Linked DNA regions of Homo sapiens. The protein of the gene in region 2 purifies or fractionates together with the protein of the main gene of each other region. This does not show direct contact. Each region holds a gene or a part of one and is shown on either strand. Other genes may lie near its edges.

Evidence for each region. Proteins that work in one complex are often made in the same cells at the same time.
Region 1: the proteins of SMURF2 (region 2) and ARHGAP5 purify together in Homo sapiens (affinity purification with mass spectrometry; 2 studies listed by BioGRID and IntAct, with this or other methods). This does not show direct contact.

Annotation. Positions count from the first base shown.
Region 1 is NC_000014.9:32,150,304-32,153,803, reverse strand, and holds part of ARHGAP5 (rho GTPase-activating protein 5), read right to left. Parts: intron 1,382-3,500; coding exon 1,276-1,381; intron 1-1,275. UniProt on the Homo sapiens protein: GTPase-activating protein for Rho family members.
Region 2 is NC_000017.11:64,554,308-64,557,807, forward strand, and holds part of SMURF2 (E3 ubiquitin-protein ligase SMURF2), read right to left. Parts: intron 3,416-3,500; coding exon 3,301-3,415; intron 1,692-3,300; coding exon 1,513-1,691; intron 687-1,512; coding exon 549-686; intron 1-548. UniProt on the Homo sapiens protein: E3 ubiquitin-protein ligase which accepts ubiquitin from an E2 ubiquitin-conjugating enzyme in the form of a thioester and then directly transfers the ubiquitin to targeted substrates.

The DNA.
Region 1 (3,500 bases), on a different chromosome or scaffold from region 2:
CTGAGAATTTTTAACTTTCAGAAAACCTGGTTGCAGCAGGTGCGGTAGATCACGCCTGTAACCCCAGCTCTTTGGGAGGCCGAGGTAGGCGGATCACAAGGTCAAGAGATCAAGACTATCTTGGCCAACATGATGAAACCCTGTCTCTACTAAAAATACTAAATTTAGCTGGGTGTGGTGGTGTACATCTGTAATCCCAGCTACTCGGGAGGCTGAGGCAAGAGAACTGCTTGAACCCAGGAGGCGGAGGTTGCAGTGAGCTGAGATCATGCCACTGAACTCCAGCCTGGCGACAGAGCAAGACTCCATCTCAAAAAAAAAAAAAAAACCTGGCTGCTAGCATTCCATAAAACAATCTTTTTTTTTTTTTTTTTTTTTTTTTTTTTTTTTTTTTTTTGAGACAGAGTCTTGCTCTGTTGGCCAGACTGAAGTGCAATGGCATGATCTCAGCTCATTGCAACCTCCGCCTCCCGGGCTCAAGCAATTCTCCCGCCCCAAGCCTCCTGAGTAGCTAGGATTACAGATGCTCACACCACGCCCAGTTAATTTTTGTATTTTTAGTGGAGATGGGGTTTCACCATGTTTCCATGGTATTTTCTCAGGGAAAGGTTATAAGAAATGTTAATACAATTTTATACCACATTGCTAGTAAAAAGTAAGCTTTAAACATTGGTGAATCCTCTTTTAGGAGGTACCAGCTGAAATGTACTTGGTTTGGGTGTTGATACTATTAGTTTAAAAAAAAAAAAAAACAAAAAAAACCATACAGTTCATTAAAATGCCAGTAGAAAATATTATGAGGAGACTTTTCAAAAAATTAGTACATATACTAAAATAGTTCCATTCAGTCCTCAGAACAACTTTGTGAAGTGTTGTTATTTTCATGTTTATAGTTGAGACAATCAAGACTTAGGAAGAATAAGTCATTTACCCAAGGTCACAGAACTAGTAATTTTTCAAACCAAACCCTGTTCCAACTCCAAATAGGTCAATCTGGTTAGTTATCTGAGTGTCATTTCATATCTAAAATTCTAAGATTTTACAGAGAATGTGGTAAAAAGGAAAATATACTTACCACACTTACTATTTATATAATAATTACATTACAAAACTAATCATATATCTTTTTAGATATAAATTAGAAAAACAAAATTCAACTATATGTTTAGTCTGAGTCCCCTTTTCTATCTGATAATTATCCAATTTATAAAATTTACATGTTTGAAATGTGTAGTGCATTTTATTTGCCAAAAAACCCTAAAAAAATAAAAATACCTGTTTAGATGTGTTATCACGTATCTGAATACATCATAGTTTACAGGATGAAATTTCTTAACAATTTCTTTCAAGGCATGAAGACGTTCTGTTTTATCCGGGATTTCTGTAAAATTAAAACAGTGAAGAATCTGTGTAAAACTTACACATTTAAAAATATTTGATAAAGCTTCCTGCTATATTTACTATAACAGTCAAGAATGTGTTTAAAGCATATTAGGATAGGTAAACAAAATCAAAGAAAATGTTCTAAAGCAACAGTCCCCAGCCTTTTTGGCACCAGGGACCAGTTTTGTGGAAGACAGTTTTTCCACAGATGGGTGGGGGGATGGTTTCAGGATGATTCAAGTGCATTACATTTATCATTAGATTCTCATAAGACGTGCACAACCTAGATCCCCTGCATGCGTGGTTCACAATAGGGTTCCCACTCCTAGGAGAATCTAATGCCGCACCTAATCTGACAGAAGGTGGAGCCCGGTTTCCCTTATCCAACTCCTCACCTTCTGCTGTGCAGCCTGGTTCCTAACAAGCCAGGCTGTGTGGCCTAGGGGTTGGAGAGCCCTGTTCAAAAGAACCTGCTAAATTATGTAAATTAAGAAATCACTTCAACTAACATTATCTATTTCTATTAATGTCATCATTTATTACTATAGCCTTTTTATAAGGAAAGCTAATCACTGAAGACCAAAGTGACCCAGCATTGACAAAATGGGAAATGGTACGTTAGCAATTTACGTAACTAGATACTGATTTATAATTAACTAATTACTTATAAATATGTTAGGCTCTTAACATTTATGCTACAGAGTAACTATTTTAGGCTTTGTGGGCACACTTACTCAACCCTGTGTTGTAGCACAAAAGCAGTAACAGACAACATGTAACAAACGGGAGTGGCTATACTCCAATAAAACTTCTGAAATTTGAATTTCATGTAATTTTAATGTGTCATGAAATTTTCTTTTCTCTTGGTGTAAAAACGACTCTCAGCTTAAAAGTCTGCCAAAAACTGGCGATAGCCTAAATATGGCCCTCGGGCTATAGATTCGCCTATACTACAATTACTTGTAATCCATTTTGCTTATCAAAGATTTTCCTTTACAGGCAGTTTAAGTATTTAACTTACTCTCCAAATCTATGCAATTATGAAACAGAGTAACTAAAATGTGGCCCTGAAATAAATGAGATAGAGGGTGCTTTCCACCTCTTCCTTATTTTGGAGACCAGTGTGCACACCACATCATTATGGTAGCATAACCAATTACTAACAACATTTCATTTGTTACACATTACTTCTAAATCAGTCCTCAAAAATTTCCTAAGTAGGAATGTTCTGAGGTTCCTATTAATGGTCAATAGATAAGAACATCTAAGCTATCAATTAAGCCATTTTCCCACTTTACCTGAGAGTACGTATATATAAGGCAACTATACCTTGTGACAATATACAGAATTAAAAAAAAGAATCACTGAGAACTTAGAACAATACGAAGTAGTCTCATCTAAAATAACCTGAAGACTTGCAACCAAAAGGAAATAGTAGAGAGAAGTATTTAGCAACTGTGCTAATTTTTTGTCACTGAGAAATCATGTGGATGAAACTGATGCCCAAACAGACTTTAGTTCTCATTTTCCAGATAAATGAATATCTGTTTAGTGGAAACATCTGAATGAAAGATGCCAAAGTAGGAATAAATACTAAATAAATATCATGTTCTTTCCCAAAATGACTTACAACACATGGTCTGCTATGGTTTGAATGTTTCCCCCAAAGTTCTTGTGTGGGAAACTTAATCCCCAAGGCAACAGTGTTGAGAGGTGGAATCTTTAAGAGGTGACTATATCATGAGGGTTTTGTCCTCATGAACAGATTAACGCTGTTATCTCTGAAGTGAGTTAGCTATTTTGGGAATGAGTTCCTGATAAAAGAGTAAGTTCAGCCCCCTTCTTGTCTCTTACTCTCTGAGTGTGCTCTCTTGCCCTTCCACCTTCGGTCATGGAATGACTTTGCAAAAAGGCCCTCACCTGATGAGGCCTCCTTGACCCTGAACTTACCAGCCTCTAGAACTGTAAGAAATAAATTACTTTATAAATTATGCAGTCTGTAGTATTCTGTTACAGCAACATAAAACAGGTAAGACAAAGCCAAAGTAAATTTCTTTGACTTACAATTTGAAGAATTTATTTAATTTTCTTACAATGCCCTTAAGTTTGAATTAAAA
Region 2 (3,500 bases):
AGGACCAGGCTTAGGCCTTAAAAAGATCTAGCAGCTTCTGCTTTTGAGCTTTAGAAAGCTGGCCACCCCATAAGAAGTCTGGCTATCTTGTTGGGAGAGAGAGTGGCTATGGGGGGAGGGAGTGGCTATGGGGAGAGGGAGTGGTCATGGAGAGAGGGAATGGCCTTTGATATCACATAGGGAGAACCAAGGAACTCAGCCAACAATGAGAACAAGGCCCCAGACAGTGACCCCAGTCAACAGCCATGCCAGCTAGCCCTCAGCCATTTGAGTTATCCTAGTTATGAGTGAAGAGGCCATCTTGGTGTTGCAGGCCTAGCTGACATCTTGTGGAACACCAGTGTTGTCATCCATGTTGTTCTTTTGCCCAATTTCCTGACCCATGGAATTGTGAGAAATAATAAAATGTCTGTTCTAAATAAGCCACTAAATTCTCCTGAAGCGGATTTTGTAACACTAAGTAGTACTATCTAAATATTTAAGTTTGTTCATACTAACATTCTAGAACATTTTAAAAAATTCAGCCTTGAGAACACAGGAGTGTTTACCTGACATATTCTTTTTTATTTTCTTCATTAACAGGGATACTTTTGCCATTTGGTTTAAGTTCATGCTGAATAATTTCACCATATGCATTATGTTCAACACAGAAGGTATGGTCCAAAACACCTGTAATATCATTCTCACTGGATAGGAAAGAGGAAAAGATATGTAACTGGGAAACCTAAAATACAGACCCTATAGATGTATTAATTGGTGAGATAAAACTAAGATCATTTTATAATATAACAAATGTGAGGTCAGATTCTGCTTCCATACCACCTAGTTCTTTCTGGACAGAAAAGTCAAAGAGCTTTAACCTTCATAAACACAGAAAACATTTAACTTCCTGAGTAATGAGAAAGAGCCTTGGTCAAAGCTGGGCCTTGCTAGAACCACCAATATAGGACAATTTCAGTTACATTTGGCATTCTGAAGAGCCCTACTCGGTACTGTACTCCAAGGGGCCAAGTGCCTGTGTATCCCTAGTGAGAAAGCTACTGTATACTTTATAAAAAATAAACATTGCCAGTGTATCTTCACAAAATAATGACCTCTTGCAAAACAGAATCAGTTCTTAGCTTAAATTCAACAATTAGTTCTTATTCTAAAAGTACGGTTCCAACAATCGCCACTTCATTAAAAGCAACAGCAGCCAAGAATTTGCTATTCTAACACACGCAGGTTTGGAACAGAATTTGTATCACATTGAGGAAACAATTATATAAAGTACTTTTAAAAATAGAAATATACTAGTTGTTTTTTCCTTTTTAAAGTAGTAACACTTGCTAAGTTTAAGGAATTTGAAATGTATAAAGAAGCTACAGGAAAGGGGGAAATCATATGCGATCCTATCACTCAAATAACCACTCAATATTTTCTGTGTAATTTTTTTAAGTACATCAGTTTTGAAACATATTTTTTTTTAAAGCTCAGAGTTTATAATGAAGAGATAGAAGACTCAATACATACAGTATCCACACTAAACTGTTGTGAAGATCCGGATCTACTAACTCCATGTCATCCAAGGTAATTGACTTCCCAAGCAATTGCTTATAAAAAGGCAATGTGAAACCACCATCAATATAATGTCCATGAAACACAGCCATTCCCATTATTCGTCCAACAAAGTGGAAATAGGATAAATGTTCCTGAAATTGAAAACAGTATATATACTCGTTAGGCACTACCCAGGAAAATTTTAATAAAAATGAAATATTTCAGCAACATTAATCTTTTTGAGAATAAGCATAAAATTTTTACTCTTCAATAGAGTCAGGAGGGAGTATTTCTCTAGGGCATGCTCCAGAGTCTCTAGATCACCAGAGAACAGCATATTACACAGGGTAATATGCCCTTCTCGCAGGGGCCAGTCATTTTGTAAATTTTATCTTTTAGAAATTAAGTCCAAACTATGGTCCCGGAGCTTCATTCAACTACTTGCAGATCCTTTTCTCTTCCTTCTCTCACCTCCTGCTGAGCCCTTTGTCATGAAAAAAAATCTTTCAATCCTAAACCTCCCTACTTCCTTGACCTAACCAGAAATTAAACATCAAAACACCATAGATTTAAGAGCACAGACTTGGTGTCAGACTTGAATTAGAATCACGATTCTGCCAGTCAATGGCATATGGACAAATTAACCCCCGTAAGACTAACTGTCCACATCTGGAAATATGAGGATAATAACAGTATCTAAAAAGCATCTCTATGAGGAGTAAAATGAGGTGATGTTTGAAACCCATGGAACTGGACCTGGCATGTTATAAGCAGTCAATGAGTCTGGGCTATTGTTACTACAGGGGCAGTAGTGGGCCCTCCAAAAAGAACCTTCACCTCAAAATCCTCCCTAAATAACTTCTTGAAACAAATCTAACATTTCTACCCTTTTATATATATTTGGTCTTTCGTCACAGATTGTTTTGTTAGATGTTTGTATTTTTAAATTCTTTTACCTCTCTATTTACTAAGTAATCTTTTAAGCTCGTCTTTAAACCTTTTATCTTGTTTTTGTTTCTTTTTTAAAAGTAACACACGCGCACGCACACAAACATATATATTTACCAAAGTTGCATTATACTATTTGATAACCTTCGTTTCACTTAACACATCATAAACACCATCTTTCCATATCATTAACTATTATCCCACATTATCATTTTAGTGGCTGTATAGTATGCCCTTATATGGAAAGACAATATAAAAACAATACATTAGTAATAACTGCTAACTTCTGTTGAGTGCTTAGTAATGTAGTTGATAGAGTTGTAGAGTGAATAACATACAGCACTGTGCTAAGTGCTTAATGTGCAGGGTCCCATTTCATTCTCATAACCCCTCTTTGAGGTACAAATGTATTTATTAGCAATGACAAAACTGAAGCTTAAGTCCATGAACTTGCCCTGAAAGGTCACAAAGCTAGTAAGTGATGAGACCACGACACGTCTTTCTAATTCCAGAACCTATGCCTTTAATCATTTGCATTATTCTGCTTCATGTCATAATTTAATCAGTCCCCGCTCCTGAAGACAACTATGTTGTTTTCAGTTGAGTGCTACTATAAACAATAAACATCCCTGTTTCCAAATTGGTGCATATATCCATAATCATCTGCTTGGGAAAATTTTATAGAAGGGGAATTGCTGAGTCAAAGGGCACAACTAAGACAAGGACAAATAATTTCTATATAATAAACTACATTAACATGTAAACATGAAAAGCATTATTGGTCACAATTCACATCATAACTTCAAATCATACCGGATTAACTGCAGAATCAGGATTGATCTGCAATGTATAAATATCATCTCTTGAATACTGGAAGAGGCCATAGTATGGATTCAACATTTCATGTGACAAGAGATACAACCATTCCCTAGAAAACAAGATATGACCAAGGAATTTTTTTGTTAATGTATACATTTTTATTAAGATATGTCATTAACTAATCATTTTAGCAA